Regions from separate parts of the Homo sapiens genome. Here regions 1, 2, 3, 5 and 6 are each reported to be linked to region 4. Evidence: microRNA targets listed by miRTarBase, many of them from high-throughput screens and not tested one by one. Region 4 holds a microRNA gene; each other region holds the end of a gene's coding sequence. Distances are between the middles of the regions.

The links. The annotated mature microRNA hsa-miR-196a-5p reads UAGGUAGUUUCAUGUUGUUGGG and lies in region 4 at 1,375-1,396, opposite strand. An mRNA with a match to its seed (bases 2 to 7 or 8) in the 3' UTR can be bound and repressed. Matches are read on the target gene's strand: a 7mer-m8 pairs with bases 2 to 8, a 7mer-A1 pairs with bases 2 to 7 and ends in A, and an 8mer does both.
Region 1: the mRNA of FMNL3 is a reported target of hsa-miR-196a-5p. The part of its 3' UTR that is shown has no 7-base or 8-base seed match.
Region 2: the mRNA of VCF1 is a reported target of hsa-miR-196a-5p. Seed matches in the 3' UTR shown: 7mer-m8 at 3,659-3,665.
Region 3: the mRNA of PDCD4 is a reported target of hsa-miR-196a-5p. The part of its 3' UTR that is shown has no 7-base or 8-base seed match.
Region 5: miRTarBase lists MMS22L as a target of hsa-miR-196a-5p. Seed matches in the 3' UTR shown: 7mer-m8 at 3,520-3,526 and 7mer-m8 at 4,463-4,469.
Region 6: miRTarBase lists SARAF as a target of hsa-miR-196a-5p. Seed matches in the 3' UTR shown: 7mer-m8 at 485-491.

Annotation. Positions count from the first base shown.
Region 1 is chr12:49,641,526-49,646,761 of GRCh38, reverse strand. FMNL3 (formin like 3) reads left to right here. Exons shown (of 26, transcript NM_175736.5): 26 at 859-5,236. The coding sequence ends at 947. It overlaps PRPF40B (pre-mRNA processing factor 40B), which reads right to left. Exons shown (of 26, transcript NM_001031698.3): 19 at 4,738-4,854; 20 at 4,390-4,527; 21 at 4,087-4,182; 22 at 3,746-3,832; 23 at 3,365-3,539; 24 at 3,010-3,071; 25 at 2,758-2,901; 26 at 2,097-2,662. The coding sequence ends at 2,570. Among named protein-coding and RNA genes, the nearest start is that of PRPF40B, 21 kb to the right of the region's middle.
Region 2 is chr17:73,205,374-73,210,608 of GRCh38, forward strand. VCF1 (VCP nuclear cofactor family member 1) reads right to left here. Exons shown (of 4, transcript NM_001098832.2): 4 at 1,992-4,395. The coding sequence ends at 4,156. It overlaps COG1 (component of oligomeric golgi complex 1), which reads left to right. Exons shown (of 14, transcript NM_018714.3): 10 at 180-307; 11 at 781-889; 12 at 1,335-1,444; 13 at 1,808-1,883; 14 at 2,941-3,134. The coding sequence ends at 3,078. Among named protein-coding and RNA genes, the nearest start is that of COG1, 15 kb to the left of the region's middle.
Region 3 is chr10:110,897,362-110,902,597 of GRCh38, reverse strand. PDCD4 (programmed cell death 4) reads right to left here. Exons shown (of 12, transcript NM_014456.5): 12 at 2,592-4,570. The coding sequence ends at 4,510. It overlaps BBIP1 (BBSome interacting protein 1), which reads left to right. Exons shown (of 4, transcript NM_001195305.3): 3 at 986-1,060; 4 at 2,072-3,868. The coding sequence ends at 2,238. MIR4680 (microRNA 4680) reads right to left here and starts at 4,508; the gene lies at 4,443-4,508.
Region 4 is chr17:48,631,158-48,636,157 of GRCh38, forward strand. MIR196A1 (microRNA 196a-1) reads right to left here and starts at 1,402; the gene lies at 1,333-1,402. It overlaps HOXB-AS4 (HOXB cluster antisense RNA 4), which reads left to right. Exons shown (of 2, transcript NR_046611.1): 2 at 3,394-3,775. LINC03057 (long intergenic non-protein coding RNA 3057) reads right to left here. Exons shown (of 2, transcript NR_186590.1): 2 at 3,647-5,000.
Region 5 is chr6:97,142,047-97,147,282 of GRCh38, reverse strand. It overlaps MMS22L (MMS22 like, DNA repair protein), which reads left to right. Exons shown (of 25, transcript NM_001350599.2): 25 at 396-5,122. The coding sequence ends at 477. Among named protein-coding and RNA genes, the nearest start is that of MMS22L, 140 kb to the left of the region's middle.
Region 6 is chr8:30,059,071-30,064,298 of GRCh38, reverse strand. It overlaps SARAF (store-operated calcium entry associated regulatory factor), which reads left to right. Exons shown (of 6, transcript NM_016127.6): 6 at 386-1,296. The coding sequence ends at 411. Among named protein-coding and RNA genes, the nearest start is that of SARAF, 21 kb to the left of the region's middle.

The sequences.
Region 1 (5,236 bases), not on the chromosome of region 4:
GGCCACAGTGCTGAAGAGTGTCCCTTTCACGGCCCGTACTGCCAAGCGGGGCTCACGCTTCTTCTGTGATGCAGCCCACCATGATGAGTCAAACTGTTAGCCCCCAAGGTTGGGGCCCGACAGGTACTGGGCACCGCAGCTGCCCCCTCTGCATGCCCGTCTCCCAGGATTCCTGCTGGGAGACCACAGGCACCTTCTTTCCTGCATGACTTGCAATCACCCTCTGGCAGCCTCCCAGCAATGGGGACACATACTTCTTGCATGCCCCATGCTCTGAGAAGTGTGGCATATCCCCTGCATGTGTCCTTAGGGAAGTGGTCTCTCTCCCACTAATGCTGTCCTGGCTTCTACTAAGACCAAGTGGGTAGGGAGTCACCAGGCCAGTGTTGAGAACAGGCCAGAGCAGGCAGGACCAGACCTACAGTTCTGATCTTTGAGGCTGAGGTTGAGGGTCCATTCCCAGGCCTAAGGAACCTTTCCCTACGGTTCTCTTCTCATAAGAGCTCTGGTAGTAGCTTCTGACCAGGAGGTATCAGATGTCCCTTGATCTGTTTCCTGACGTCCAGTCAGCCTGGGGTCTTTTCCTAGTTTCTGGCTCTTTCTGAATGCATCTACCTTGTCTCTCTCCACTGCCCAGTGGCCTCTAGTCACCCCAACCTGATCCTCTGAAATGCAAAGCCCAGCAATCTCCCCAACCAGCAATTTCCCCAACTGGGTACCCCTCAAGCCTTATCTAAGCCTCCTGTTTATCTGCCTCACTGCTGGCTCCTCCCTGGCCCTACCTGTGGGGCTGCTCTTGAGGGCACTGTCCTGGCTCACCCTCCCATCCTGTTCACAGGTCTCTCTCTTCCCCCACAGGCCTCCACTGCCAGCCTATGGTTGTTCGCCACCAAGCCAGGAGTGCTGCACCGCCCAGTGGTCCCCCTCGGGCTCCAGGCCCCCACTGAGACCCTCTCGGAGGCAGAAGCACTTCACCCCTCAGAGTCCTACAAGTCCAACCAGTGGACCTGGAATTGGCCAAGGGCTCAGGAGAGGGCTGTGTTGCTCTCTCAACCATGTCCGCCCCAGCTCTTGAGGCTGGATCTTTCTACTTGTGCCACTATGGGCACTAGGTCTGTAGGTCCCTGGTGCTTCCAGTACTGCACTTTGCCCCCAAGGTCTTTGACTTCATTTCCTGAAGGGTCACCAAGGGTCAGCTCAGGGCTAGGAAAAACCATTTCCAGCCTTAGCCTAAACAGGGCACATAGATCTCTCCCACTAGAGCCCAGAGGGATGAGAGGAGAGAGCAACTGTTCTTTCTTTTTTTTTCCCTTCCTTTTTGCAGGCCCATGGTCAGCTCTGGTCTAGATGTATCTAGGCTTAGGGAGCCCTGGGACCCTGCCAGTCTCAGTTCATCTCTTACCAGGAGCAAGGCCCTCTGAAGCATGGGCCGTGCCAGCTGTGCCCTAGTGATAAGGGTAAGAGGAGAGATGTCAGGCTCACTGCCCTTATTTCTCTGCCCATTTCATTCTAGGCTCACACTGTCCTTGTCAAGGTGGGCAGAAGAGCAGAGGTCTTCTCTGCACCAACCACTCTCTGCAGATGGCTGGAGAAAGGGTGTGCCAACTCTTCACCTTCTTTCCTCAGCTACGGTTTTTTTTTTTTTTTTTTTTTTTTTGGCAGGGGACAAGGAGCATGGTGGTCTTGGCTATTTGCTTACCTTCCCGTTTCTCCTCTGCCCCTGGAAGGGAATGTGGGGGCCCACTTTTTTGTACATGTACCACCTCCCTTTCCTCTTACTGTACATAAACCTCAGACTCTCCCCCTCTCAACAAAGGCTTGATGCACCAGGCCTGACTTTGTCTCCTCTTTCTGAGCTTAGGGGGCTAGGGTGGCCATTTAGTCTGACCTGGGCTATGGGGATAGAAAAGAAATCTTTGGGGCACTGCATCTGTTTTGGAGGAGATGAGATCAGAACTCTGGGGAAAGGAGAACCGGCTAGGTGGGCTCTAGCCACACAAAGGGAAGCAGGCCTGCCATGAGACACTAGTGCCCTCTGCTGGGCATGTGTCCAGTCCCCAGCCTGCCCCAGTAGCACATGGAAAAGAGTCACTGGCCATGTTATAAATATTGTTATTTAAAAAACAAAAAACAAAACACACGTACATTAGGTCCTGGGTGGAGGAAGAAGTGGTGGAGCCTCAGGGCCAGGGCAGGCAGGAGCAGGCACTGATGCTAGAGGGTGATGACCCTGCCCTCTGCCACCCAGGCTGCGTCCAACAGCCTGTGACTCTTCCCTGGAGACCCCTTCTCTCACACTTTTATCTACTGGCATCACCCACCCCACATGGCATATACCACCCATCTCTGGTCTGGGGCTGAGGGCAAGGACTGCACTAGTCCAGGGAGTAGGGGACCCTTGAACACCAAGAGCAACCTTGAGAGGTGCCAACAATGGTGTGCTGGGGGTGGGGTTACTTTAGAAAAAGTGGACACAGACCAGACTAAGGAAGAAGTCTGAGGCAGACGGTGAGGGTGGCCCAGGAGCCATGGCCTCACACAGACCCGAGGCAGAGAACAGCTCATTGGGTCACTGGTGATCATCCAGCTGCTGTAGGAGTGTCCGCCGCCGCCTCTCCAGCTCACCCTCACTCAGCTCACTTTCTGACGTGTCCCAGCCTGTCTGTTGGAGCAAAGGCACAGTTCACCCTTAGCCTGCACTAAGGGCCGTGGAAGCTTGACCAGCGTGCTGACTGGCCTAGGGCCCCTGCCCCTCACCTTCTCCTTCTTGATTCCAAAGCCTGGGGAACGGTTAGGGAGCTCTGCCTGTTGGAGCTCCCTGTCCTTGTCCTGTTCTTGTTCTTTCTCATCGCTCTCCTTGCCAGCTTTCTCCTCAGGGTCTGTCTCACTCTCAGGACTATTCTGTAAGAGTCCAGAGCCCACCTCCTCAGTTCCTGTGGATAGCCTGGGAGGCAGGTAGAACAGAACTCACAAAATAGCAGGGGCTTAGGTAGAAGTTCCTTCACTCACCGACTTGTGTCTTCTCTTCTTAGTTTTCTTTTTTGGTTTCTTGGCTTTCCGAAGGCCATGATCTAGAGATAGAAAAATCCCTACTAAGTCCCAACAGGAGAAAGACAGGCTCTTTTTCTTTGTTCTAGCCCCTCTGTTCATTCTTCACAGGCAGGAACCTCATGCTCTGAGGAAGTCTAAGTCCAGTTTTCCTTCTCCAGCTTCTTGCTTGGGCAGGTAGAGGAAGTTCTTTCTACTTCCACAGGTGCAGCCCTCCCAATCCAGTCTACCCTCAAAGGAGCTGGGGCTTGTGGAGGGCATCCTCTCAGTCTGGGACAACAGTTCTCCAGCTTCTACGCTCACAGCAACTGCTTACCTGCTCCAAGAAGATGGGAGGAAGGGGAGCCCCGTCCTCCAAGGGCAGCACCCCCACTTTCAACTGAATCAAGTGAGGAAGAGGGCTCAGAGCCTGACTCTGAGGGGTTCCGCCTCCTCCGCTTGGGGGGCCGGAGAGATGGTGGGGGCAGCTCCTCTTCTTCTGACTCAGAGCCCTGGGCAGATCAGCAGATACATGTCAGTGCAGAGGTTCTCTGCCCTCCAGAAGCCCTCGTCTGGGAATTCGAGAGAGGAGGAGGACCCAGGGCCAAAGGAATCCTCAAACTTCCCTCCAAGGGAGATATTGTAAGGGGAAAACAAAGTGTTTATTTCCCCAAAACAACCCAGCTTCACCCCATGTCCCTTCTACACGCTTACTCACTGAGGGTGAGTGGGAACGCTTGTGATGGTGCTTCTTGCCTTTCCTGCCATGCTTTCGGCCTTTGGTGTGGAGGTGCTGGCATTCAGTCTGCTAGAGGCAGAGGAAGAAGGGTGAGGACAGCACCAGACTTAGCCCCAGGAAGGATCCTACTTCCTAAAATCTGGCTTTGCCTCCCTTTCTCAGACTAGAGCCTTCTGCCTATCCCAGGGATCCTCAGGCCTCCCCTTCCTTAGCTGGCCAGGAGTGCCCTAAGGGTAAGAGGGAGGCCACTGAGGTCTCTGTTGAACTGGTCTAATGAGTTCAAGGGCCTGAGGCAGATCCAGAGGACAAGCCTGCCTCACCTCCAGCACCTGTAGGAACTCCCGGAAGAGCCGGATCCGCTCCGACTCCAGGGTGATCTGCTCAAAGGCTGAGTCACACACAAAACGCTCACGGACCTTGAACGAGGAGAGCACTGCTGATCAGACTAGGCCCCACTCAGCCTGGCCTGGACACCGCCATGAGCACAGGGCAGGGCTGGGGCAGAGAAAGGAAGGGAACTGGAGCTGGCCCAGGGCTGTGACGTGACTGGGGTGGGCCCTCAGTGGTGAAGCACCGCTGCCCTCAGGCTTGAGGGGTGCTTGGGGCCAGGCTACGCTCCTGACCTCTTCCCAGGCAGTGCCTAGCTCCAGAGCAGGCACAGCCTGCCTCAGCATGCTTCGAAAGGCAGCTTCCCTGCGCCGCATCCTGCGTGCCTCCTCCTTCTCCCGCTCCCTCTCCCGTGCCTCTGCTTTCTCCAGCAGCTGAGGAAAGAAGGGACACGGAACAGGGTCACCCAGGAGGGTGGATGCCAGGTCCCACTCAGGCATACCTTAGGAGGTGGAAAGTTAGGGTCTGGGCTTCTACCACCATCCCCTGAATTGGGAATATAGTCAGTGGGACAGTGAGTGAGAAGGAATGGAGCAAGACACAGATGAATTAGAGAACTTCCCACGCCCCGCCCAGCCCCTCACACTATTGAAGGTCAGCTTGATGTTGCCTGCGTCCAGTGCGGCAGCCCTCTTGTCAAAGCTTATGACGTGGGCGAAGTCCTCAAAGGCCGTGTTCACCTCCACGCAGAAGCCCCGGTCCTGTGGGTACAGCAGTGCATGAAGCAGGGGCACCACGTGCCTGAGGCCAAAGCTGGCAGGCAGAGTGGTCACATTACAGATGGTCAAGAAGGCCCTTGCCTCTGGAAGAGATCCACAGGACTGTGGTCTGCATTAGAAACCAAGTTATCCAAGTCCTCATCACTTGACAATTAAGCCCCCATGCCTACCCTTGGTTTGGATGTCACACAGAGCTGAAGGGGTTGGGAGATGTCTCCCAACTGCTGATTAATGCTGAGTTTCTCAAAATTAACTTTTGTTCCTTTGGCTTAAAGCTCTGGCCCCAGCTGGGCCCTCCTGCTGCTCAGCAGTGCTTCCATGCATTCTCAATCAACATTTGCTGGCCCCTACCCTTTGGGTCTAT
Region 2 (5,235 bases), 25 Mb from region 4:
AGGTCAAGTTTCTAACAAAATTTGTTTTGTTGTTGTGAGATTAAACTGGCCATATGAGCATTAAAACCATCTGCTTCTGAAATAGCAAGCTGAAACTCAACCAAAACTTGAAGCTGTTTATTACGCTCACATACCAAGTCCTCTCTCTTCATGGGTGGGGACTGGGAATTCATTTGCAGAAAGAAGGTGCATTTCCAGTCACCCAGAACCGGGCGCTGCAGCTGCTTTATGATCTGCGTTACCTCAACATTGTTCTGACAGCCAAGGGTGACGAGGTGAAGAGTGGCCGGAGCAAGCCAGACTCCAGGTGTCGTATCCTCTAGGGAGCTATGTCAAGGCGGTCTCTTCCAAAAGCAAATAGTCCCTTTGCTGGGAAGCCACCAGAGTCAGCCTGTTATACTGCACATTCATTGTGTTTGTTTTGAACAGTAAGTGCTCATATTGCCAGCAAGTTAAATAATGGCCGCCTGCTGGATAAATGCAATGGTCAAGTGAAATAGGTGGACTCTTATTCCCCTCTCTTCTGAGTCAGCCTAGCAGCTGCTGAGTATCATTTGAGCCCTTAGTGCCCTCCTTATAGACAGAACGGGGGAAAGGGTGGACTTCACTTAGACATCATGCTTGAGGGTGACTTAAGCACTATCATCAGTGACAAACGTACTAAGCCAGCAACTAAGTAGAATAAAACCCAACTCCAAGATTTCTACAGCAGTAGGATATCATAAGATTGTTTTTGATCCTAAAAAATGTGGACAGTAATGATCCTAATCCTTTTCTCAGAATTGAGAAAGTGACTGACCACCTGGAAGCCCTCATTGATCCATTTGACCTGGACGTTTTCACGCCACACCTCAACAGCAACCTTCATCGCCTGGTGCAGCGAACTTCTGTGAGTCAAATCAAAAACATGCTTAGTGCGAACGAAGCGATACAGGCTCAAATAACAAAATTAACCTGCTCAAGCACGTAATACTCCAGGATGCAGCATAGGGAGGGGAATAAGACACAAATAGCCGAGTGTAGTTATAAGGACTGAAAGAGGATTAGATAAAATCTCACACACTGAGGCAACCAAGATTTGGCCCCTTAAGTTGTAAATAAGGATTATTACAGTTTTATCCAGGCCTCAGAAAGAGGAATAAAAACTCCCTGCCTCTCAGATTCTGACCTGTGGGCAGTGATAAAAAGTAATCGTGAAGCATAAATGCACTCAGAACATTCCCCAAAATGACAGTTAGAAATACGGTAGCGATGGGTGACTAACCTTTTTTTTTTTTTTTTTGCCTTTCTTTTACCTGCACAATGAAACCTCTGCTCCACCTCTTGTCTGCCAGGTTCTGTTTGGATTGGTGACTGGTACAGAGAATCAGCTCGCCCCCCGGAGCAGTACGTTCAACTCCCAAGAACCCCATAACATCCTGCCACTGGCATCCAGTCAGATCAGGTAAAGGCTGCCAAGAGGCTTCTGCGGGGCACTTCGGGAGGCCAAGGTGGACGGATCACGTCAGGAGATCGAGACCATCCTGGCTAACATGGTGAAACCCTGTCTCTACTAAAAAAAATACAAAAAATTAGCTGGCCTGGTGGCAGGTGCCTATAGTCCCAGCTATTCAGGAGGCTGAGGCAGGAGAATGGCGTGAACCCAGGAGGCGGAGCTTGCAGTGAGCCGAGATTGCGCCACTGCACTCCAGCCTGGGCGACAGAACGAGACTCTGTCTCAAAAAAAAAAAAAAAAAAAAAATGAGGCTTCTGCTGGGCCCCAGAGCTGCCTGTTTGTGCTACTAAATTCTTTCCTCTTGTTTTGGAGGTTTGGACTTCTCCCACTGAGCATGACAAGCACTCGAAAGGCTAAATCAACCAGAAACATCGAAACAAAAGCTCAGGTTGGTGCCAAGAGCAAGAGGCTCATCCGTGGATGGGTCCCCACCTCCCACCGAGCCACCCATGATCAGCTCCCTTTTAAATAACTGATTAAGAACTGAATGACAAAATGCACTAATGCTGCTTTTAATGGCGGCGCAATAGAGAAGTACAAGGTTTTACTAGCTTGAGCTACTAGAAGGTGTAAAAGATGCCCGCTGACACTACCAAGTAGCCTCTTAATAGAAATGTAGAAAATATACAGGACAGGGTGGAGATGAGCTCTTGAATTTAGTAGGGTGAAAGAGTTAACTGCCAACCCGGCACTATCATTGTACTTGTTTGGAGAAAATCTGTTTTGTTCTGGTGATGATGGTTTTATCTTCCCTTTTAGTTGGGTGGGAAGTAACAGAAAATTTGTTTCCCCAAAAGTTTGACATTTTCTTGTTAATACACGTTTCATTTCAGTACGATGCCAACTGTTAAGCCTGCAGGAATCCTCCTGGGTATTTCTGAATTGTGCTGTGTGCATGTGTGTTTGAAAGCTCAAACAGCTTGTCTTCTTACAGCATCGAGTTGTTTGCTTTATTGTTAGACACAATATTAGCAGTGTATCCTTTCCGTATTCCCTACCATCGAACCCATTAAGATCTAAAATCCTTGTCAAGTATCTGGCTTTAAAAGTTGGGAGATGGTAGTTTAAAAAAAAAAAAAGCTCTTGCAAAAACCATCCAGTCCCTAAGCATGGGCTATGTTGCAGCCTCTTCCAGAACAGTTTCCACTGCAGTGATCTTTCAGTTCTGCCCACATTAGGTTAGCAGGCTGTGGAGAGAAGTGCCTGTGTCTACCCTTTTCCCAAGACAGTCCTCATTTCCAAATTCTAGTTTTGTCACAAAGGCTCATGCTGTTCCGTGTCCTCTTCAAATCTGGACCGACAGCAAAGTCCTCTGACTAGAGCCATCGTGCTTCTCAGCTCCGCTTGTGTGTGCCGTGTGGACTCCGAGTGGCGTCGCGCGGAGGGCGAGTGGGCAGGAGGGCTCAGGCCAACTCTAAGGCACTTTTCTCTACATCCAATGGCAGGTTGTCCCCCCGGCACGCTCCACAGCTGGTGACCCGACAGTTCCTGGCTCCTTGTTCAGACAGCTTGTCAGTGAAGAAGACAACACGTCTGCACCTTCATTATTCAAACTTGGCTGGCTCTCTAGTATGACTAAGTAACATGGCAACACATCTGTCTCTCCCTAAATAAATACTACCACATTATTTCTTCTAAAGGTGCCTCTGCTCATCTGATTCTCAGCCACACCAATCTTTCCAGTTTCACTGATGGAATGTGGCCCCCTAGTTACTGTTGGGGGTTACTTTAAGCATCAAGTTAATCCTTGTCCCAAAATTTCACAATACTTGTTGCTTTAGACATCAGTTCAGGTAGCTTACATTTTATCAGCGTTCAACAACACCTTAATTGTTGACACTACAAGGTGGAATTGTCAATGAGATCATGTAAGCTGCTGACTGACCAAGTTTGTAGGACAAAAAGTCATTACATATTACTTTACTTGCAGAACTGTGCCATGTTTCCTACTAAAGTCTGAGGTGCAGACTCTGGTGGAATAGTGACACAGAAGTTATCTGGGTATACAAGAATCTAAAAGACATTCTCTCTGGAAATACAAATATATAACAAAGAGTAGAGACTATTATTAGGGAGTGTGCTTCACTGACAGTCTGAATTGGATCTGATTGTTCTCCTGTTACACAGGAGAGAGTACTTTCAATAGAACATCTACATACTGAGAGGTAGTATGGCAGTTAATTTCAGTGCAAGACTGAATCAAGCTTCCTATATTTTGGAAAAAAACTTATGTTTTTTCATGGAAACTAGATACTCTTTACTAGTTTATTGAATAAAAAAAATTGAAGATCCCGCATTTTTAAAAGGCCCTTTACATAAAGTAGAGTTTCTAGTTGACAGATTTGGAAATCAGTCTGAATGGGACATACTATGGATTCAACACACAGAATGAGTTTTCCTCAAACCACTACCTTGACATAGATTTGATACCCTCCCTCAAAAGAATCCTATAAAAAATTGCTTCAAAGCCCCTTTGAAATTGCAATAGTGCAGCAAAACCACAAGTAAACAACTGCCTGTTAACCTGTTATTTCAAATATAGACTGAAAAGCCAACAGGCATTTTTCGTGTGCAATTTTTCTTTTAAAACAAGTTGTAAGTTGAAATATCAAATCTGCACAGCGCTGTCCCTTCACAGAAGGCAAGAAACTGCCGGCACATCATGTCAGAGGCCGCCCTCGGTGCTGTAGGCTGTGGAAGTGGGCCTCCCTCAGGGTCTGGTTGATGTGGAAGTAGAGGCCTTGGCACAGCGCGGACTGCTCGGGCACGGGCTGAGGCGTGTTAGGGCTGGATCCGGCCATGGTCTGGCTCAAGCTGCCTTCCGGCCCGCTGGCCCTGTCCGGGCTATTGATGCTGCTGCTGCTGCTGCTGCTGCTCCCACCACTGTCACTGCCTGAAGACTGGAAGGAAGAAGAAAGAAACAGGGTCACAATAAGGCTGTTTTGTTTAAGAGCTTTACTGTGGTTTCATGTACAGCGCTCTATTAAGAGTACCTTTCCAGTTCAGCTTGAGGATGAAGACATATACTGGGCTTTGGAATTGATAAAGTACGCTCTCCTAAAACGTTTCATCCTCTCCTCACAGCCACCCTGTCAGGCTGAGCAGGGTTTATTGTCCTTAATACACAGCTCTAGGAGGATGGGTCCAGTCCAGGTTCAAGCACGGGCTGCCTAACTCCAAATCCTTTCAACTATATCCTAATTCTTTTGCACATATTCTATACCTGCTTTTCCCATTCATTTCAATAATTTCCAACCAAAGAAGGCAGTTCTCAGCCTCCAAGGGAATGTATGAGTCATTGGGACAGAGTATAAAAAAGGTGACAAATAAGATGGCTTCTGGGTATAAGCGAAGATAAAAACTAAAAGCCTATGCCAATTTTGTGATCATCATAGACACAAAATGGTATTCTGTAACTGCAGGACACAGACCCTGAAAGGACTTTAATAGACTTCTGGTCAAGTTATCTTATGTTGGCATTATTGCAGTTCATATGTACATGTGTGTACATGAGCGTGCCTAACTTTTTCTTTAATGTAACTAACATGACTTGGTGTTTTAGTCATCTTGGAGAGGCTACTCGGAGATCCCTGATAAGAGTCACTTTCATTCTGCAGTTCATGTTTTAAAAAAAAAAAAAAAAAAGTCACTTTCAGAAATTCCCGCCTTCCACCACTAGGACTCTCAAAGGGGAGGGTGACACGAAGGACCCATTTCAGAATTATGGTATTTTACAATTT
Region 3 (5,236 bases), not on the chromosome of region 4:
AATAACAAAAACCAGAAGAAGCTTCACTTGATTATAATTAATTTGCAGTGGTTGGTAAAGGCAGGCACCAAGCCAGATTCACCACTTTATAAATAATAAATCTGTGGGGGTGATGTTGTGAAAGATGCATGGTAAGGTTGCATCAGCAAGGTGAATCACTGAGTGGGTGGGACCGTCTAGAAAAGCATCTGTGTTTGGAAAGGGATCATTCTACAGCTTAGTCCAGAACACCTTGAACACACAGCATAGCAGAATCTTGACTGTAATACTTGGAGCAAATGTCACTGGCAAAAATGGCATATATGCTGGGATGTTCATAACAAATAGTTAAATATTGTTGGTCCTTTCGCATATAGAATCTCGGTATTAGAGGAAAATAGTAAACTGAAACTCTATTTCTGTTCTGCAAGAGCCAATTTCACCTATTGTATTACTTCGTTACCAATTGCAGCTGTGTAGTCAGTCATCCATAGGATTCTTTTTGTTAGACACAAAGTAGAAACCAGCTGTTGGCCGTTGAGACAAGTAGGAATCTTAGGAAATGTTAGCCTGCCAGTTCCTACTTTTCCTAACTACCTGCCTCACCACCCCCATCAAATGGTGGTCATGTTTTTTGTCACCCACCATTCAGGGGAGATGCTATCAACGAACCACGCTGGCTACACACAAATACCTTTTCCTCAGATGATATTAATCATCTTTGCCTTAAAAACTGAAGCTCTACCAAGTTTTCACTATGAGAGAAAAAAAATTACAACACCTAGCCTTGTAGTTAACACCACAACTGACTAATGGAAGTTGACAAGATCTAAATGCTTATACAAACTATCCCAAGGTCACAGGAAATTAATGGCAATATTATACAAGGTTAGGGTAGTTCACTTTCTATAGGAATTTGGATTTTACTTCTTAAACTACAATGGAAATGTCTCAGGCAGTCTGCTTTGGGAATGTATTCTTGAATAATACTGATTTCTCATTGAAGGAAAAAACACTATATCCAACAACTCAGATATGGCAGAAGTGAAGTCAATGTTCCGGGAAGTTCTTCCAAAGCAAGGTATGTACATCACAAATATTGAGGTCATTGATTATTACAGGACTAAAGAAGTCATAGGCAGTGTCACATAGCAGGCTTAATAGCTAAACATCTGCAGCTATTGTGTTCCGTATTATCTCATTTACTGTCTTTTACTATATGCTTTTTCATGACATCCAGTAAAAGGATAACAAATGAAACATTGTTTCTTATACCTAAAATTGCCTATTAATTAGCTAATTCCTAAAATTCCTAATTACAATATGAATTTTTTTTAAGAGACAGGTTGTCACTCTGCCACCCAGGCTTGGGTACAGCTGGCACAACCGTAGCTCACCGCAGCCTTGAACTACTGGGCTCCTGCCCTAGCCTACTGATTTGCTAGTACTACAGGCATGTGCTACCATGCCTGGCTAATTTGTTCTTATTTTTGTAGAGAAGGGATCTCAATGTGTTGCCTAGGCTGGTCTCAAACCCCTGGGCTCAAACAAACAATCCAACCCCTTTGGCATCCCAAAGTGCTGGGATAACAGGTAAGAGCTACCATGCCCTACTCAATATGAAACTTCAGTGAAAGAAATAATGGAATTTACTATGTTAAATAAGGTCTGAAAGTGGAGAAAGAGAAACCTGAAGCAACAGTAAGAAAAGCCGAAGGTTTAAACCTTCAGTCATTTGAATATTTACGTTAAATATCATATTTTGCTATATTTTTTTGCACTATGTATATATATATTCTGCCAAATCTTATTTTAAGATTAAACTTCTGACACAAAAAGTTGTGTCTTATGGTAGCATAGATTCTTGGGTAGAACGCTCAAAACTTGTCTTCCTCAGAAGCACCCTACTAGTAAGAAATGCGCTTATAGAATGACAATGATCTTTCTGGTTCCAGAGCAAAACTCAATTTAGGTACAAGAGTTTTTCAGTGACAAGAGATTAATTTTTTAGACCTTCATTCTAGCTGCAAATCCAACTACAAACAACTGGGTTATCTTTCTTGAATTAATTCTTATTTCTTGTTAAACTTAGGGCCACTGTTTGTGGAAGATATAATGACAATGGTGCTGTGTAAACCCAAACTTTTACCCTTAAAATCTCTGACTCTGGAAAAACTAGAGAAAATGCATCAAGCAGCACAGAATACAATTCGCCAACAAGAAATGGCAGAAAAGGATCAACGGCAAATAACCCACTGAATGATAACTGAGCACTTTAGGGAACAACCTGCCTTATCTACTATTTAACAATAACTAGAAAATATGCTTCTGTGTGCTGAAAGTAGTATGTGTTATCAATAAAATTGATAGTATTCATAGAAATACAAAAATATCCAAGATTGATGAAATTTGTATTGTGAATGTAAACACTCTGGTTTGTATTGAACATAAACAGTTAAACTATGAACCAAGTTTTATGGGGTTTAAGTCATGTTTTTAGAATTGCAAATTAAATTATTTGTTCACCATTCCTATTGCTATCTTTTATAGATAACATTCTTGGGATCTTTTATAGCATTCTTGGGCACAAGGGATTAAATACAACTTTTATATACAGAGGATCTTTACATGTTTATTAAATCTGAATTTGAAGATACATTCCAATCTTGCATAAAGTGTTTGTTGGGCTTTTACATTACGTAATTAAAAAACAAAATTTTTTAACCAATTTTATGTGCCATGTCACGTTTAATGCTATCTTGTGTGACCAGATCCCACCAGTAATGACAAAACTGTCTTAAACCTCATTTTTTTTTTTTTTTGAGACAAGAGTTTCACTCTTGTTGCCCAAACGAGAGCAATGGCACCATCTCGACTCACTGCAACCTCTGCCTCCCAGGTTCAAGCAATTCTCCTGCCTCAGCCTCCCAAGTAGCTGGGATTACACGCATGCGCCACCATGCCTGGCTACTTTTGTATTTTTAATAGAGACAGGGTTTCTTCATGTTGGTCAAGCTGGTCATGAACTCCCAACCTCAAGTGATCCGCCCACCTCGGCCTCCCAAAGTGCTGGGATTACAGGCATGAGCCACCGTGCCCAGCCCTTAAATCTCATTTTTAAGAAACCCTCACCTATTCTGTAGTCAGCTAAGCTTTTAATTACATTAATTTTAAGCACTTGAGAATAAAATGACTGCATTTATCATCCAAGTGTCAAACAATTAAAAACCTAAAAATGGTAACTATATATAAGCTGAGGTAATATGGGCTTGATAAAGCCCATGAGGTAAATATGAACACTAAACTTGGTTTTAATTCTAACAGACTATATCTAAACCTGTAAGCAGTATACTCCTAACAGTACCCTCATAAATTCTGAATATAATTCTTGTTTGCTGCAGTCAATATTTGGCAGTTTAAATTAGCACAGACGTTGAGGCCTTGCTGAGTTATTAGGCTATGTAAAAGAGGTTAAAAATATGATCATTCTTTATTGTTAATTGGTAATATTTTCTCATACATTAGGTAAATGTCAAGCTTTGGGTCTCTGGAGTATAACTTTTTGTAACATTAGCCATTATTTGGTAACAGAATTTAAGGATGATGGAATGATGGAAGGTATTACATATTTCTAAAACTTAATTAAGCTCTAGGTCAGATAACAATGGAGTAAAGTGATACCTGCATTTTTTTCCCCAGTGTAATCTTAATTTACTATTGTATTTTTCACTTAAAATTTTGTAGGGAAAAAAAGTTTTCAAGGGAACACTAAGATTAAATTGACTAGGTTCAAATATGCTTCCTTATGAGATTCAAAATTTACTGTGTGAAATTAAAGTTTAAGAGACCTAAAAAAATGTACTCCCAATAAAGAATCAATACTGCTTCACATGTTTTATTTTGGTGTACATTCTTCTAGAACCAGGTTCATTTTTCCAGTTTTGTAGAAAAATAGATGTTCCAGCCACCTTTTACTTAACTGTCTAGTCTTTTAAGACCAATCAGTATGTTCCCTGGAAAGATGAATAAGTCTCATGACTAATTTTTTAAAAATTCTTTAAGACAAAGAAATAACTTTCTTTTTTTACTCCCAAAGCACAGTATCTCAACAGCAGCAGCCAACATGGGGTTTTAGCAGCTTAACTTTACCCCCTAAATAAAGCTTTGTATAAACCAGTGATTTTACTACAAAAAACACTGTCCTTGAAAGAAAGGAGTGGCAGTCAGACATCAATGCAAAACTTGGAATGATTAGATAATAAACATGGCACTTACAAAAGGTAGCTTATTAGAATATTCCACTTAAGAAGAGGTTACTTTTCTGTCCCTCCTTGCCCCCTCGAAAAACAAAAAAAAAAGAAAAAACATTTCCTTTAAAAATTCCCCTTAAATGTAGGTTTATAAAATGTCAGAAATGCCTTGTACCCAAAACAAGTGCTTAAAAAAAAAAAAAAAAAAAACTTGTGCTAACAACTCTTACAATTCAGATATATATTTTTATAACATCTAAGACTGCAAGAGTTCTTATATTCAGTAGCTCTCTGGTTTAAGACGACCTCCATCTCCTTCGCTTACAAAACGCTTTCTGCCCCTGTAATGAAGAAAAAAAAAGACATGAAAACAGATACAAATTCTGACTATAGTCAATATATAAAAAAATTAAAAACTTGGTATTTTTTCGTTACGTGTTAGCTTTTAAAGGGTTTTCCATTAAAAAAAAAAAGCATGCCTCTAATTCCTTTGGAAAAGACTCCCTACTATATATCTTAGCATAAAACATCAATATCAAATCTGAGTTTTTGTTTTAATAAGTTCACTATCCAAACAGAGTCACATTAAAAAAAGTTGACTCAAACTAAAACATTTTATTTAGAAATTTAAAATTATTTCTAATTAATTTCTAATTATTATTTGTAAGCTTAACAGTAAGCCAAATAGGAAACACTAACATAATTCAGAATTATGCAAACTGGAGCTGTGCAACCTATCAAAATATCCATGTTTGGCAATTTAAAAAAAAATGTTTTATCAACTGTAGAAAAGCCATAACTTGAATGTGGAAAAAAATCAGAATTACAGCCTATGCCCCATTTTGGGATTCGTGCTTTGTCAAACTCAAGAAGCCCTGCTCTATAATGTAACCACACTCTTACCTACATGTAGTGGCAATAGCCCAGAAGGAACAGCTGGCCAGTGGCCTAAAGCAGTAAGTGGGAAATAGAACTTAGGCAACATTAGCCCTTACTCTCTGACCCCA
Region 4 (5,000 bases):
TTCTTTTTACAGCACTTTTCCTGGGAGGGGGTGGCCAAGGGACACCAGGGATGGAAGACAGTCAGGCTCTGAGTGACTGGGCAGGTTTGTGAGAGGCCCAGGGAGAAGTGAGATAAGGCCGCAGGGACGCGCCAGGCCATCTCCACCCAGACCAGAGGATGAGAAACTGTCAAGGGACAGAGTTGTTAGCCTTTGCTTATCAGGACAGTGGGTTGAAGGCTCCATTTCCCCTAGGCTAGGGGTGGGTCTCCCTAATGCCCCTCTGCTCTAGCAGAAGCCCCTTGTTCAGAGACCCCCTGGCCCTCCAAGTCAGCCTGGCGCCGAAGCCCCATCCGGTCGGGCCTCTTTCCCGGGCCCCTTTGCACATTTCCTCTGCCTCAAGCAGCAGGGGGAAGGTTTGGGAACAAAAGTTAGCTTATGCTTTGGAAAGTCCCCCTTCTTCCACCAGCACTTCTAGTTATTCCTTTCCTGGGCACAGGGCCAACAGCCTTAAGAGGACCGAGGTCAGAGAGGGTATCAGAGTCTTGCCCTGCCCAACCCCTGGTTTCATCCCTTGTCACTGCATCAGTCGGGGTTGAATTGTCCAACAACCTGGGCTCCCCATTAGCTTGCAAGTCAGGCCCCTCTCCAAGGAGGTGGCACTCAGGACCTATGTGTACCCCCAGCCCAGCCCAAGGCCAGTGGGAAGCCTTTGGCCACTGGGGTGGGTGGGGAGGAAAAAGTCAACTGAGGGATTAGGAAAGGAAGGACTTTTCGGACCTACTTCTGTAGGTCTGGTCCCATAGGGGGCCTTCGACAGGACCCTGAGGGCTTTAGGCTGAGATTGCAAGAGCTCTCAGTGTTTGCCTTTCAGAATGAGACCTACTGAGCCCTCTTCAAGGACCTGAAGCTTCCTGCTGAGGTGGAGCACCAGCCCGCAAAGAGTTACAAAAACCTCAAGAACCCCCTGCATTTCTTTTGAAATCAAATATTTGTGAAGTTGGGGAGAGTTTCTCTGGAAAGTTCTGGATGTAGTTGAGAGCTCAGAGACCCTAAGGCTGGAAGTTGGAGCTCTGACTGCCATCTTTGGGTTGGGCTGAACAGCCCAACAGGGCCAGGGAGGTGCCTCGGGAGAGTTGACTGCTCCTCATCCCCCTTCCCCTCCTAACACACACACAAAAAAACATTCAGAAGTGGGAAGACACTTCCCAGATCTCTTCTCTGGGGGAACATCCTTGTTGCTCCTGGATGAAGGACCTCAAACCTCTTCCCCATTTTGCAAGGTTGATCTTCCAGTCCTGATTCTGCTCCCCTCCCCCAACTCCTCCAGCTAAGCAAGGAGCAGTAACTGCCGTGAATCGGGTGGTTTAATGTTGTTGTGTTCAGAAACCCAGGCCCAACAACATGAAACTACCTAATTCACTCAGCAGTTCCAATTCAAGCTCTAGGTCAAGAGCTCACTGGGGGCAAACCCTGTGGCCATTTTTTTGTGGGCCAAAAAGCGGCTTAACTTCATTTTGCTCCACCTCTTCCCCAACAGAAGAACCCAGTTGCTACTAAACAACACATCGGAAGAACTGAACCCAGGACTCTAGGTAAAACCATTTTGGAGCCGGTCCTGATAGCTCAGATTCCAGAGACATTTGCTGCCTTCCAGGAGCCCTGGCCAGAGAAGAAGACCCTAGACACAGGCACAAGCCTGGGCAGGGCCTCTTTGATATACCTGCTCAGTCTCTGCCTCTCAGCCCAGCTGGAGGTCTCCACAGATAAAAAGAATTCTCAACTTCAAACAGATACGAAGGTGCATCTATACTCAGCACCCTGCTAGCCCCTGTATTCCAGGTCACCCAGCCTCCCAGTGTAGCTCTGAGAGGCCAGATCTTCAAGTCCTACACACCCCCCAGCTTTGAGATTGGGGCTCAGACAGGAGAGTGAGACAAAAGAGTGCTGAGAAAGAAAGTGACAGAGAGAAAGGTGGAAAAGCAGAGTGTCAGAAAGTTTCGGGAATTCTAGGGAACAAACAGAGGAAGAATGGGATTTGGAGGGGAAAGCCGGTTGATCTGAACAGTTGCTGTGAAGGCACCCTGCCCAAAATGTCCCAGGGCCCTGGCTCTGCAGAGGCCGAGCTGCCCCAGGTAAGACAATTCATTCCGAATCTTCGCAGAATAAGGACTGAGAGGCTAAGGACTGGGATTGGGACACAGAGAACAAATTTGCTTCCTCCTTCCTGACCTTCGGTCTGGGTCCTTGGCCCCCTAACGTGCCCGCTCCTCACCTCTGCCTCTCCAGACACCCGCCTGCTCACAGGTGCTCACGCTCACACCCGCACCCATCGCAAAAACGCAGCTGTGCAGGCCGAGGGCGGCGGCGGACTTACCTGGGCGGCGGCGGTGCCGGCAGTGCGCGGCCGTCGGAAGGTGCGGAGCCAGCGGCCGCGGCCCAGTCCAGGCTCCCTCCCGCCCTCGCCCAGAAGCGAGGGTCCGAGTGGCCACGTGTCCGGCAGGGAAGTCCGAGGTAGCGAGGGAGTCCACCTGGCCGCCCGCTCCCCCTCCCGGGTATAAATCTTGGGGACCGGAAATACAATAAAACTTCACCGTGTTGATGAACTTCAAACGGTTTACATCCCCTCCTGTCCTGAAAAGAAAGACGTCCGGGGGCGGATTAAAAGGAAGGGGAAACAAATTTACGAGCGGCAGAAGCACCCGCCTCGGCCCCTTTCTTTGCCCGCACACTTTGTCCGCGTGGAGAGAAGCAGCCCCAGCCCCCGGGACTTGGCCTCCGCCGAACCGGCCGCCAGGCGCGCTCTTCTCTCGGAGGAGTCGGCGCTGACCCAGCCCGCGCCCGGCAGAGACTGGAAGCCGCCGCCTACACGGAAAATCCACAGAGCCCCGCGCAGACCCTATGATCGGCTCGGCCCGCCGGGCTTGGGATGAGGCTCCCTGCTTCTCGCTAGAGCAGAACTGGGCTCCCTGGCGCTTCCTTGCGAAAGCCCAGGCTCTCCCAACCACGCCCGGTGGCCTCCATTTTTTGCATCTTTCCGCTGAAAGCGGGTTTTTTCTTTTTTCTTTTTTTTTGACAGAGTCCTGCTGTGTCACCCAGGCTGGAGTGCAGTGGCGCGATCTCGGCTCACTGCAACCTCCGCCTCCCGGTTCAAGCGATTCTCCTGCCTCAGCCTCCCGAGTAGCTGGAACTACAGGCGCCCGCCACCACGCCCGGCTAATTTTTGTATTTTTAGTAGAGACGGGGTTTCACAATATTGGCCAAGCTGATCTTGAACTCCTGACCTCGTGATCCACCCTCCTCGGCCTCCCAAAGTGCTGGGATTACAGGCGTAAGCCACCGCGCCCGACCCAAGGGTTTTTTGTTTTTGTTTTTTGTTTAACTTTACTTTTCTCTTTCCTTTTCCGTTTCTAGCGGCCAGACCTTTGCCCAGCCCTGCCCGTTTATTGCCGGGTACTTGCTGGAAGGGGACAGAAGATAAGACTCGGGGTGACTCCCAAGGCCTGAAGGGGGCTGATTGGGCCGGGGGCTCCCAGAGGATAAACCTAGGGGCCGGTCGGTCTTCCTCGGCGTGGAAGTGAGAGCCACGCGGCGTGGCGGAGCTCCACCACCGTCTCCTTATCTCTTTAAAGCCTCAAAATCAAACAAAACCACTACTACCCAGGCCTCAAGTTTCCACAGTTTTTGTCTGCTCTGGACCGTTTACTTTTTTTGAAAAAAGAGAACTTGGTGGAATCCAAATTCTCTACTAGGCCTCCGAACCAAAACGAAGGAAAATCCGTTTTCTTCTTGGGCTTCAGAGAACTGGGATCGAAGTGATTGACTTCCTGCTCCTTTTGTCTGCTCCAGGGGCCTGGTTAGGTGCCCTTCTGGATGGGAGAGCAAAAGGTTCTCCATCCTGCCTCACAGTTATTCACCTCCAAAACAGTTTTGAGACACAATGGATGGCTAAGATTAGCTCAGGCTCAGGCAGAGTGTTCAGGTACAGGAGTGAGGTCCAGCTGCAGGCCCAAGAGGGGGTTTAGTGCACTGAAGGCACCCACCTTCCCATAGATACACACATAGATAACCCCACTCCCCAACCCCAAGAAAAGGCACCAAAGTGCTGCTGGATATTTTAAAAATCTGATTAAAAAATAAACGGGCAGGGAAAATACTAGGCAGTATAGGTTTTGAATTTTCTGAAGGGTTAACTCTGCTGCAGGCAGTCCCACTCGGCCCCAGCTCTCCAGAGGTGGGTGGTGGTCTGGGGGCAGTGCCCTCTGGCCCCTTCCTAGCACCAAAAGGGAGGAATTGGGGAGCTCTTTAACAGCTGGAGGGCAGGAAGTATCTTATTTCTGGCCAACATTCATATTCCAGTATTTGCATGGGGAGGCCCCTCCAGCCTCCCTCATTTGCTCTTTATCATGTTATATTTTCATTCAAAATACTGAGATGGCAGCTACTGGCTGTCACTTCTTCTATTAGGATTTCCCTCTGGGAGGACGGCAGGACTGAGGGGCCAGCAGTTTCCAGACCATTCAAGAGTGTTATTACCCATCCCCTACCGGGCACCTGGTGGGGGCCGGTGTGCTGGCTCCCAGCCTACTGCTGGCCTGGGTCTCTGTGGCTCCCTGGCTGAGAAAAGGAGATGGAAACCTTTTATAGTCTTAGACTCTTTGGAAAAACTGAAGAGGCCATAGCCTTAGGATGATGCACCTGCACACCCATATGTTTTGCATACATTTCCAGGGGCTTTGTGGCTTCCCCCTACCCCCATCCCAAGAACCCAGGCCATGGATTCCAATTAAAAAAACAAAATTATCTGTATGGTGCCAAAGGACACCCCAAAGCCATTCCCATAGATACCAGCTGTGTCTTTCCGAGGGCTCCCCAAAGGATAAGTCAACTTTCAGAGGCTCAGCACAGACACCCATGGCCGGGGTGCTGGTGCCGCTCATACACTAACTAGCTGAGATGATGGTCACTCCGTGAGTAAAGGCCAGTTAGGCAACATTTCTTTTCACCCCCAAACGTTTTCC
Region 5 (5,236 bases), not on the chromosome of region 4:
CTATTTTATGGTTACAGAATTTTTGTTTTAATACTTACGCTTGTGATACAAGTCTTCCCATTGTAATCATACCATCATTGTCCTTAAATAATATTCCATGAATGCATTTTATTACCCGTGAGCATTATAATATTTCGGAAGGTTAATGAACTTTTACATGTCATTTTTAGCACACATTTTATATATAAAAATCATACTTTAATACATCTTAACATCTAGGTTTACTCACAATAGATATAAAGCATTACTTTTTAAGAAGTGTTGTGCTAAGCCTGCTGGATGGATGGCTGAATAGATGGATGGATGGATGATGGGCAGACTTAATTTGTAAATACTGAAATGAAAAATAATGAAAATGTTAATATATTTGCTTTCTTTTCTTTTTTCTTAAACAGGGAAGCCTATAGCAAACTTTTGTCTCACCTTGGACAGATGGGACAAGATGAGATGCAGAGACTGGAAAATGATAATACTTAATATATTTTGTGATTCATCCTGTCTATTAATTATCAGTATCTAAAGCCACATTGTTCCACTCTAATTCCTACTTTTAATTAATTGTATAATGTTCTGTTTAAAATAATTTCTAGGATTTTTTTTCCTTTTATATCTGTAAGTAAAAAATGTATAAATAAGGAACTGAAGGTTAATTAGCAACTGTGTAATAGGATCCTTGGAACTTTTTACAAAACTGCATTCTACCTTGATGAAATTTTAGTTAAACTAAATTAAAGAAACATTTTCTGAGAGTGTTTTCTGTGTGTGAGTATTAAGCAGATACTTCATCCATAGACTTTTTGTTGTAGTATGACTTCCTGCCTCCCTGCCTTGTGACTGATTTGTCATGTTTATTTTTTATTTTTACAATAATAGTTATGTTTTAAAATGATACTTTTTCAAAGTACCTGGCTACCCTATACTGTGTTTTTGGTGGGGGAAAGGTGTTGGGAAATGTGACTGTGTATTTGTTTTTCTTTTTTATATGTGTGAGGCAAGTTAACAAAGAAAACCCTTACAAAGCACACTTAACTGTGTTAGGAATGAGACTGAATCTGGCTAAAGGATTATACAGCTGATATCCAAAAAGAAGTGTAAACATGCCAACAGGGTTTATATTTAGGTTCCAAGAGTTGCCAAATTTTTTTTTTATTCATCCTTTCTTTTGGAGTTGTCATTAAAAAAAAAATCATATCAGGAGGAGGAAATAAAGGAGACTTTAAGAGGAGAGTAAATAAAAATATTCTAGAAAAGTAACAATAGTAGTGGTCTGAGAAGTCAGCTGATCCATCTTCTTGCTCTTTAGCCAGAGCTTCTTATAACTTAGCATTTTATCCAAGAAACCTGTTTAGTTTCCTTTAACAACATTGTTTCTCAACTTTTGAACTCTTAACTCATCCAGATTGTTTTACCAGTTGGAGCTTGTCCTTGACTCCTTTTCCTATTGAGCATTATTTGGTTGAAAGAGCTCCAGTCCTAGTTTTGGGAACCCACCTGGGTCTCAAACTCAGCTTTGCTTTATGATCTTGAGCTAGTTACGTAACCTTTCTCAGTCTAGTTTCTTCATGGAGAAGAAAAGAAGAATCCCTTTACTATTTGACAGTGTTGTTGTGAGAATCAATGGGATAATGTACGTGAAAATATTTGGTGGCCCAAATTCTGTTGGGAAATGTACAGACACGATTAGTTTATTACTCGTGCACAATTAAGGCAAAGAACACCTCTCAATTTTATCTTTCTCTAATGATATGTCCCAGATGAATGATCCCACTTTCCAATGTTTTCTTACATCATGTTTTCTAACTTTGAAGTACTTTGTTTCCTTCTTGGGATTATAGTCTTTATCATGGTTCTACTCTTCCTTCAAGAAAACATTTCAACCCTTCTCTGGCTCAAGGAGTATCTTTAAAAATGAAATACTTTGCAATCAGTATTCTGTAGTTAATAGCGTTCTCTTAATTATAATCTGTGAAATCCAAAGGAGTGTCTGTTATTTTCATAACATATAAATGGTCCTTCTCTCAAATCAGCTTCATCAAAGGGAATAAATGAAAGCTTAAGGCTGTTTAATAGACTTCATAACACTGAATTTCTTTTCATCATGATAGTGACTTACTAAACAAATAATGTATGGCTTGGAAAGTTCCAGCAGTCACTAAGGAGTTTTATCTATTTAAGGTGATGCCTTTAAAGAGGTTATTTATGTGTATATGTGTTTTTGTGTGTGTGTGTGTGTGTGTGTGTGTGTGTGTGTGTGTGTGGGTTTTTTTTTTCCAAAGGAGATTGATAAAGATACCTTTGAGAATCTTGCTCCTTAGAGTATGAAAACGTTTAAAGGATAGGAAAAGCTGCTACTGAATCATGCTTTAGGACATATATCTATAGATACTAAGAATAACTAAAATTTGTACTTAAGAATGGTAACAACAAAGTGTGTAACAATATGTGTGTGTATTATATGTTTTGTATTTATGTATAAGTAACTTTTTTTAAAGCTTTTTTTTAAATTGAAAAAAGAAGAAAATTTATGGCTCAGTTCCTTTTTTTTAAAATCTTCACTGATCCTTCACTTATTACTACAATCTTGCCCTCTTTCATTCCCAGACTTGGAGTCCCTTATACCTGCTTCTTTAATAGCCACTTTCCCTAAATACCCTGTAATTTCTGAGGCTGCTGCTTCTACCAGTGTAATACAAGCCATTGTCTTTTGGTCAAATCTGAGTTTGTTCTCCTTTCTCATGTTCTTTGTCCTCTCTGTGACAATTGTATTTTCTTTTATCTTCCCATCATTTCCACAATGGTACTGCTCCTTCCTACATATACAGTTGACCCTTGAGCAACACAAGTTTGAACTGTGCAGGTCCACTTATATGTGGATCTAAAATACAGTATTTGTGGGATGCAAAATCTGAGTATATGGAGGACCAACTTTTTGTAGAGGCAGGTTCCTCAGGGTTAACTGCAGGACTTGAGTAAGTGCAGATTATGGTATGCACAGGGGATCCTGGAACCAGTCCCCAGACCAAAAATGACCACTGTATCTTGAGAGCACCTTCATGGTCTTCTTTCCTGTCCCCAGTCGTAAGATACGACCCTTCATCTGCTTTGTCTCAACATTCTGTTAGTGGTGAACTGATAACTCCAGCTTTTCTCTCTCTTTTTTTTTTTTTTTTTTTTTTTGTTGTTGTTGTTGTTGTTGTTTTGAGGCAGAGTCTTGCTCTGTCGCCCAGGCTGGAGTGCAGTGGCACGATCTCGGCTCACTGCAAGCTCTGCCTCCCGGGTTCACGCCATTCTCCTGCCTCAGCCTCCCAAGTAGCTGGGACTACAGGTGCCCGCCACCACGCCCGGCTAATTTTTTTTGTATTTTTAGTAGAGACGGGGTTTCACCATGTTGGGCTCGATCTCCTGACCTCATGATCCGCCCGCCTCGGCCTCCCAAAGTGCTGGGATTACAGGCGTGATGAGCCACCTAGTGCTAATTCATCTCTAAACCTCTGTAGTTGGAGTCTCCTGAAATCTCAGACTACCTCCTGCTTTCATTTTCTACCCAGGGAATACACTATTGTCCTAAGTTATTTAGCCTTGAAATGTCAGAGGCATTTTAGGTTCTTCATGTTTCTCCCACTTTCAGTTGATTACCATTACAGGATCTTAGGCTTCTTTTTATCTTTTTGCAGTGCCTTGCATCCACTGGTTGTTTGTTTTTTCTGTTGGGCACTACTTATTTCCTTACCTCTGGTTTCTTCTCCTACAGCTTATGTTCTGAAATGTGTATTCCTAAAATACTGTTTTCCTCTTGTTACTTTTCTGCTCGAGGACTTCCAGTAACTTACCATTGTTTATAAGGTGATGTTCAAACCCTTCAGTCTGGAGACTTTCTGCCACCTATCTGACTGTACCTTTATCTTCAAGCTTATCTCTTTCCAAACAAGAGGCTCATTTAGCAGCTTTCTCTGATTGCCATGTTCATCCTACACTCAGCCTCATTCAGTTTACAGCATGGAAACTGTATAGGACCTCTTTCCTATAGAAATTGAAGACACTTAAATAGGAAGAAAATTAAAATATACATTTGGATACATGAGTATTCCAGTCAAATAATATCTATAAAATACCAGATAGAGTATAAAAGACAACTGAAGGACAACAGAGTGATGAAAGGACTTTATTAGGCATTTGGATTTGGTTATGATTTAAATTTCAATTTAATTAGAACGTTTCCATGGCAAGGAAGGAAGCATGGAGGACTGTGGAAAAGTCATTCAGTATTGAGTTCATTTGCATTAGAGGAATTTCATAGTTTAAAACTTGTATATCTTTACCTATCCTTCGTATGTTTTCTTCTTAAGCATATTTGACTTTTTCTACCTCAGCATCTGTATAAGAAAATATTTGTGAGTCAGATGTTTGTGGGTTTTCCTTACCTATTATTATTTTCTTCCATGCTTTACAACACATTTTTTAAACTACCTTGTTCTTAAATAATTACACGGACCTGCTTCTGTGTACTTTCACAGAATCTTTGACAGTTAAAAATTGTATGTTATATAAAAATTTGACAAGCTTCTACAGTTAGGAAAAGCCTTTAGAAATCTGCCTTCCCCAAACCGTATGTTATCATAGCACTCATGTCTCCCCATGTCTAAAAGGTAAATAGATACAGAAACCTCACCAAAAGTTGAATCATCTGTACTAAACCACTGCTTTTTTATCCAGACTTTTTATATAAATCTTTTATTTTCCAAAAAACTGATCTTTTACCTACCCCTCTTAGAGTTAAAAATATTGCCTGTCAGGCAAGAGTATAGTATGCCAATATAAATAATATGCTTTATTTGGTTAGAAACAGTTGGTTTGGGAAGCTAGCAACATAGCATATTCTTTACAAATTTAATAAGGTGTATTTTGATACTGTGATAACCTGCATTGTAAATTACCAAATGGTTGGAATTGACCAGTTTATACTTATTAAAATTTTTGATGTGCCAATGGCTATCCAATTCATTGCATTTGTGAATTGTGCTTTTAGAAAAATTGTGGACATTTTAGTTTTATATACATATTTATGAGTTATTTGTGCATATGATAAAATTATATATAATAATAAAAGTATATATGTAACTTACATTGTGCCCTTGATTATTGAAAACTTCCTTTTTATAACAGATTCACTGTTTGGAAGCTAAAGTAAAAATGAGCCATGTTACCAGAAGTAATAATTTCTATCTTATTACTGATG
Region 6 (5,228 bases), not on the chromosome of region 4:
ACCCTCCCCACATTACGTCTCTTACCACTGGAGTTGTGAGAGGTAGCAGGGCATGGCTTATGCGCCACTGGCCTCTGTCTTTTTGGCTTAGACTTTGAGTATTGCCTGTACCATGGTGGCCCCACTATAGAATGCATTCTCTTTTTTGGGGTCCTAACTGTCATTCCCAGCAACCATGTGTGAGTGTAGTAGGCTTGATGATTGGGAAGGTTGCTGTGGGAGGCGATGCACTGTCCTGCTTAGCCCAGTTCCACCTAGTGGCACACTCTTTCCTTTCCTCCTATCTCATTCATTTGCTGACAATAAACATGTATGACTTGTAATTTTATAAGCAATTCTAATGCATTTTTAAAAACTAATGTAAATTTTACCCCTCTCATTCTAGGATATGGTGGTACCAGGAGACGATAAAGTAGAAAGTTGGAGTCAAACACTGGATGCAGAAATTTTGGATTTTTCATCACTTTCTCTTTAGAAAAAAAGTACTACCTGTTAACAATTGGGAAAAGGGGATATTCAAAAGTTCTGTGGTGTTATGTCCAGTGTAGCTTTTTGTATTCTATTATTTGAGGCTAAAAGTTGATGTGTGACAAAATACTTATGTGTTGTATGTCAGTGTAACATGCAGATGTATATTGCAGTTTTTGAAAGTGATCATTACTGTGGAATGCTAAAAATACATTAATTTCTAAAACCTGTGATGCCCTAAGAAGCATTAAGAATGAAGGTGTTGTACTAATAGAAACTAAGTACAGAAAATTTCAGTTTTAGGTGGTTGTAGCTGATGAGTTATTACCTCATAGAGACTATAATATTCTATTTGGTATTATATTATTTGATGTTTGCTGTTCTTCAAACATTTAAATCAAGCTTTGGACTAATTATGCTAATTTGTGAGTTCTGATCACTTTTGAGCTCTGAAGCTTTGAATCATTCAGTGGTGGAGATGGCCTTCTGGTAACTGAATATTACCTTCTGTAGGAAAAGGTAGAAAATAAGCATCTAGAAGGTTGTTGTGAATGACTCTGTGCTGGCAAAAATGCTTGAAACCTCTATATTTCTTTCGTTCATAAGAGGTAAAGGTCAAATTTTTCAACAAAAGTCTTTTAATAACAAAAGCATGCAGTTCTCTGTGAAATCTCAAATATTGTTGTAATAGTCTGTTTCAATCTTAAAAAGAATCAATAAAAACAAACAAGGGGTTTAGTCTCATTCTTTCTATTAGCCTAGGCGCAAATAAATGTTACTTTTTGTTTTTTTAAACCCTTTTTCCCAAAGGGGAAAGTTCATGCAGAAGTTCTGTCTCCCTAAACAGTAATTTTATGTGGTAGTCGTACCTTAGTCTTTTGGTAAATGTTTTCAAAAAGTAATTTACAAATGGTGTGGAAGCCTCTGCCAAAAAATAGCGTTTGAAAAAAATAATTAAATCTCCAAGCCTCCCAACCCATCAGAGATTGCATGGTTACACTTAGTTAAGCTTCATAACCTCAAAGCCCCAGTTTTATATCTTATGTGTTTAATGATTTTTGCCATTTAAAACTGCAGTTACTTTTCACCAACCAATAAGAACCAATTTAAAACAAACCCTTATTAAGACTATTGCATAATAAAACTATCCTCTTTTCATCAGTAAAACAGTAGAAATTTTAACTGATAGAAGAAACACAGCTTTACTTTATGTATATCCCACTAAATCCTTACCCCATTTCTCCTTAGTAGAAGGATATGGAATAAAAGAGAATGTAGTTTGTTGCTTTTTTTTTTTTTTTGAGACAGAGTCTCTCGTTCTGTCACCAGGCTGGAGTGCAGTGGCATGATCTCGGCTCACTGCAACCTCCTCCTCCTGGGTTCAAGCAATTCTCCTGCCTCAGCCTCCTGAGTAGTTGGGATTACAGGCTCCTGTCACCAAGCCCAGCTAAGTTTTTGTATTTTTAGTAGAGATGGGGTTTCACTGTGTTGGCCAGGCTGGTCTCGAACTCCTGACCTCAGGTGTTCCACCTGCCTCAGCCTCCCAAAGTGCTGGGATTACACACGTGAGCCACCGCGCCCGGCTTACTCAGATTGTTTTTGAACATAGTACTGCAGATCATTGGGATTGTAAGAAAATAATGAGTTAATGTAAAGAGAGTTGACTGTTCTTCCTGTAGGCGATAGCTTTAAAAAAAAAGAGTTGACTTGGTGGCTTTTAGATTACTCTGGGGAGCCCTAGTGGTGTTCTTATGAGGTTCTTTAGAGGGTCCCTGGAGGGAAGGGAGGAAAAGAGGCAGAGTATAGGTTTCAAGCCCCACCTGAGTGTTCCTCTTTTATCTGTTGTGTATTTGTACTTCCTTGTCATTTAAGAACTTTTTTTTTTTTTTTTTTTTTTTGGTAGAGATGGTGTTTCACTATGTTGCTCAGGCTAGTTTCGAACTCCTGGCCTCAAACAGTCCTCCCACCATGGCCTCCCCAAGTGCTGGGATTACAGGCATGAACCACTACTCCCGGCCCTTTGTTGTCTATGGAAAAGGTTCACATGTATCACTTCCCCAAATGTAAAACTTAGAATAATAAGATAGTACAGTCTAAGGCAGGAGGATTGCTTAAGTCCAGGAGTTCGAGACAAGCCTGGGCAACATAGCAAGATTTCATCTCTACAGATTATTATTTTAATTAGCTGGGCATGGTGGTATGCACCTGTAGTCCTGGCTACTCCAGAGGCTAAGGTGGGAGGATCACTTGAGCTCGGGAGATTAAGGCTGCAGTGAGCTGTGATTTTGCCATTGCATTCCAGCCTGGGCAACAGGGTGAGACCTTGTCTCTTAAAAAAATAAGGTGAGAGCATTGATTGAGAAGCAGTGGGATCCTGAAAAGTGGAATGGGGACATAAGAAAGGATCCTGATGAAGCCAGTGAAATGGAACCCCTAAATTCTGCGTAGTATTTCTTGCCGGTAGAAGCAGCCCTTCTACTTCTGTCTGAGAAGGTTAATCCTACTTTGCCTGAAGGATCTGTAATGGTCTCTTCAGAGGTGTTCGTTACCAGGCATCACTCATCTGCCTCAGGGTCTGCCCTTGCTACCTGCTTTGCTCCTAGATGTACAGCTAGACTCACGTTCCAGTAGGCACCAAAGAGTGAGGTACAAATTATGATCCATGAGGAGGTACCCTGCACACCAAAAGGACTCCATGATTTTCCCAGTCTATACAGATAGAAATCTGGGGAATATGTGTGGGAATGGATCTTAGAGTGTAGGATATGGTGGTAGGACTGTAAAGTTCAGTCAGGACAACTTTATTGATATTGGCCCACTCAGCAGAGATTCTGGATTCAATATTTGAGAGGTTAGAAAGGACTCTTAACAGTTTAGTTGGTTTGCTGAACATGGACTCGAAGATGGCCTACACTAAAGTCAAAATGCCAGAACTGCCTCAGTGTACTGTGGAGGAAGGGATTCAAAGGCTCAGGGAGATTGGAATGTTAGGGTGGATTTATCATATAAGCCCCACCCACCCACCCTGGAGGAGTCAAGAGAATACACTTTTCACCATGATGGTGAGAAATAGATTTTTGAGAAGGAGGCCCACAAATTTGGTTTCTCTTCTTTGTAGGTCAGAATGTACAGTGGGAACTGCTACCATCAAACTGGGACCCCTAGAGGCAGTGGGGTTAATTTGATCCCAGGGTAGCAGGGGCCAAATGGTGACAATCAGCAAAGATAGCGTGGCATGGTTATGCTGTAATGGGCAGCAGAGTCAAAGCAGCCATCAGAATTGTTGGACTCAGGCCAGGAACACTGGCACATGACTGTAATCCCAGAACTTTGGGAGGCAGAGGCAGGAGGATTGCTTGAGGCCAGGAGTTTGAGACCAGCCTGGGCAATATAGTGAGACTCTATCTCTACAAAAAATTTTATGAAACAAAAATTAACAAGAATTGTCTGACTCAGAGACCTATGGCATTGGCTGGTTGATCATTGTGTACCTATGGAAGAAATAGATGGCAGTCTACTAAATTCTTATTTGATTTATGTATGTGGAAGAGTTCTAGGCTGAGTAAACGGAAGTCTTTTTTTTTTTTTTTTTTTTTTTTTTGAGACCAAGTCTCACTCTGTCACCCAGGCTGGAGAGAGCAGGGGCATGATCTCGGCTCACTGCAACCTCTGCCTCCCAGGTTCAAGCAATTCTCCTGCCTCACCCTCCCGAGTAGCTGGGATTACAGGCGCCTGCCACCATGCCTGGCTAATTTTTGTATTTTTAGTAGAGACAGGGTTTCACCAAGTTGGCCAGGCTGGTCTCAAACTCCTGACCTCAGGTGATCCGCCCGCCTCGGCCTCCCAAAGTGCTGGGATTATAGGTGTGAGCCACTGTGCCCAGCCAACAGAAGTCTATCTTAAGTCACCACAAGTGAGTCATAGCCTCTGAATCATTTCCTAGACTTGAGCTGGTTTATAGCTCCAGAATCCCTTCAATGAAGGAGAGGCTGGGTTCCCCTTGAGGAAGAACCCTACCACATTGCCAGGTTTATATTGTTTATCTTTCCCCCAGTCTTCCCTCAATGGACCCGTGGCTATTTACTGGGGTAACTATGCCCTGGGGAAAGGGAAAATAATCAGATAGTTTAGGGATTACTGGACACTGAATTGATGCTAATTCCAGGAGGCTCAAAACATTACTGTGGTCCACCAGTCAGAGTAAGAGCTTATAGAGTTTTAGCTCAGATCAATTTCACAGTGAGTCCCATGGGTCCCTCGAATGATCCTGTGATTATTACACAGGAATGGAACCTGCGTTCTAGAATGCAGGATTAGAATAGACATACTCAGCAACTAGCAGAATCTCTACGTTGGGTCCCTGACCTGTGGAATGAAGGCTGTTATGGTGGCATAGGCCAAGTGAAAGTCACTAGAACTACCTCTATCTACAAAAATGATAAACCAATAGTGGCTGTGATATGGACACTTGATTAAAGGGGCTGAGAGGACTTGTGGGGAATCCCAATTGGAAGAACATCCAAGTTAGAGATGAAGGCGACTAGGGAGAGTTGGAGTGAGGAAATGGGGTGAAATGGAGGGACACAGAAAGTGCCTGAGCTCTGTGCCTCAGAATGTGATCTTATTTGGAAATAGAGTCTATGTTAGTCCATTTGTGTTGCTATAAAGGAATACCGGAGACCAAGTAATTTATAAAGAGGTTTAATTGGCTCACAGTTGTGCAGGCTGTACAGGAAGCATGGTGCCGGCATCTGCTCCTG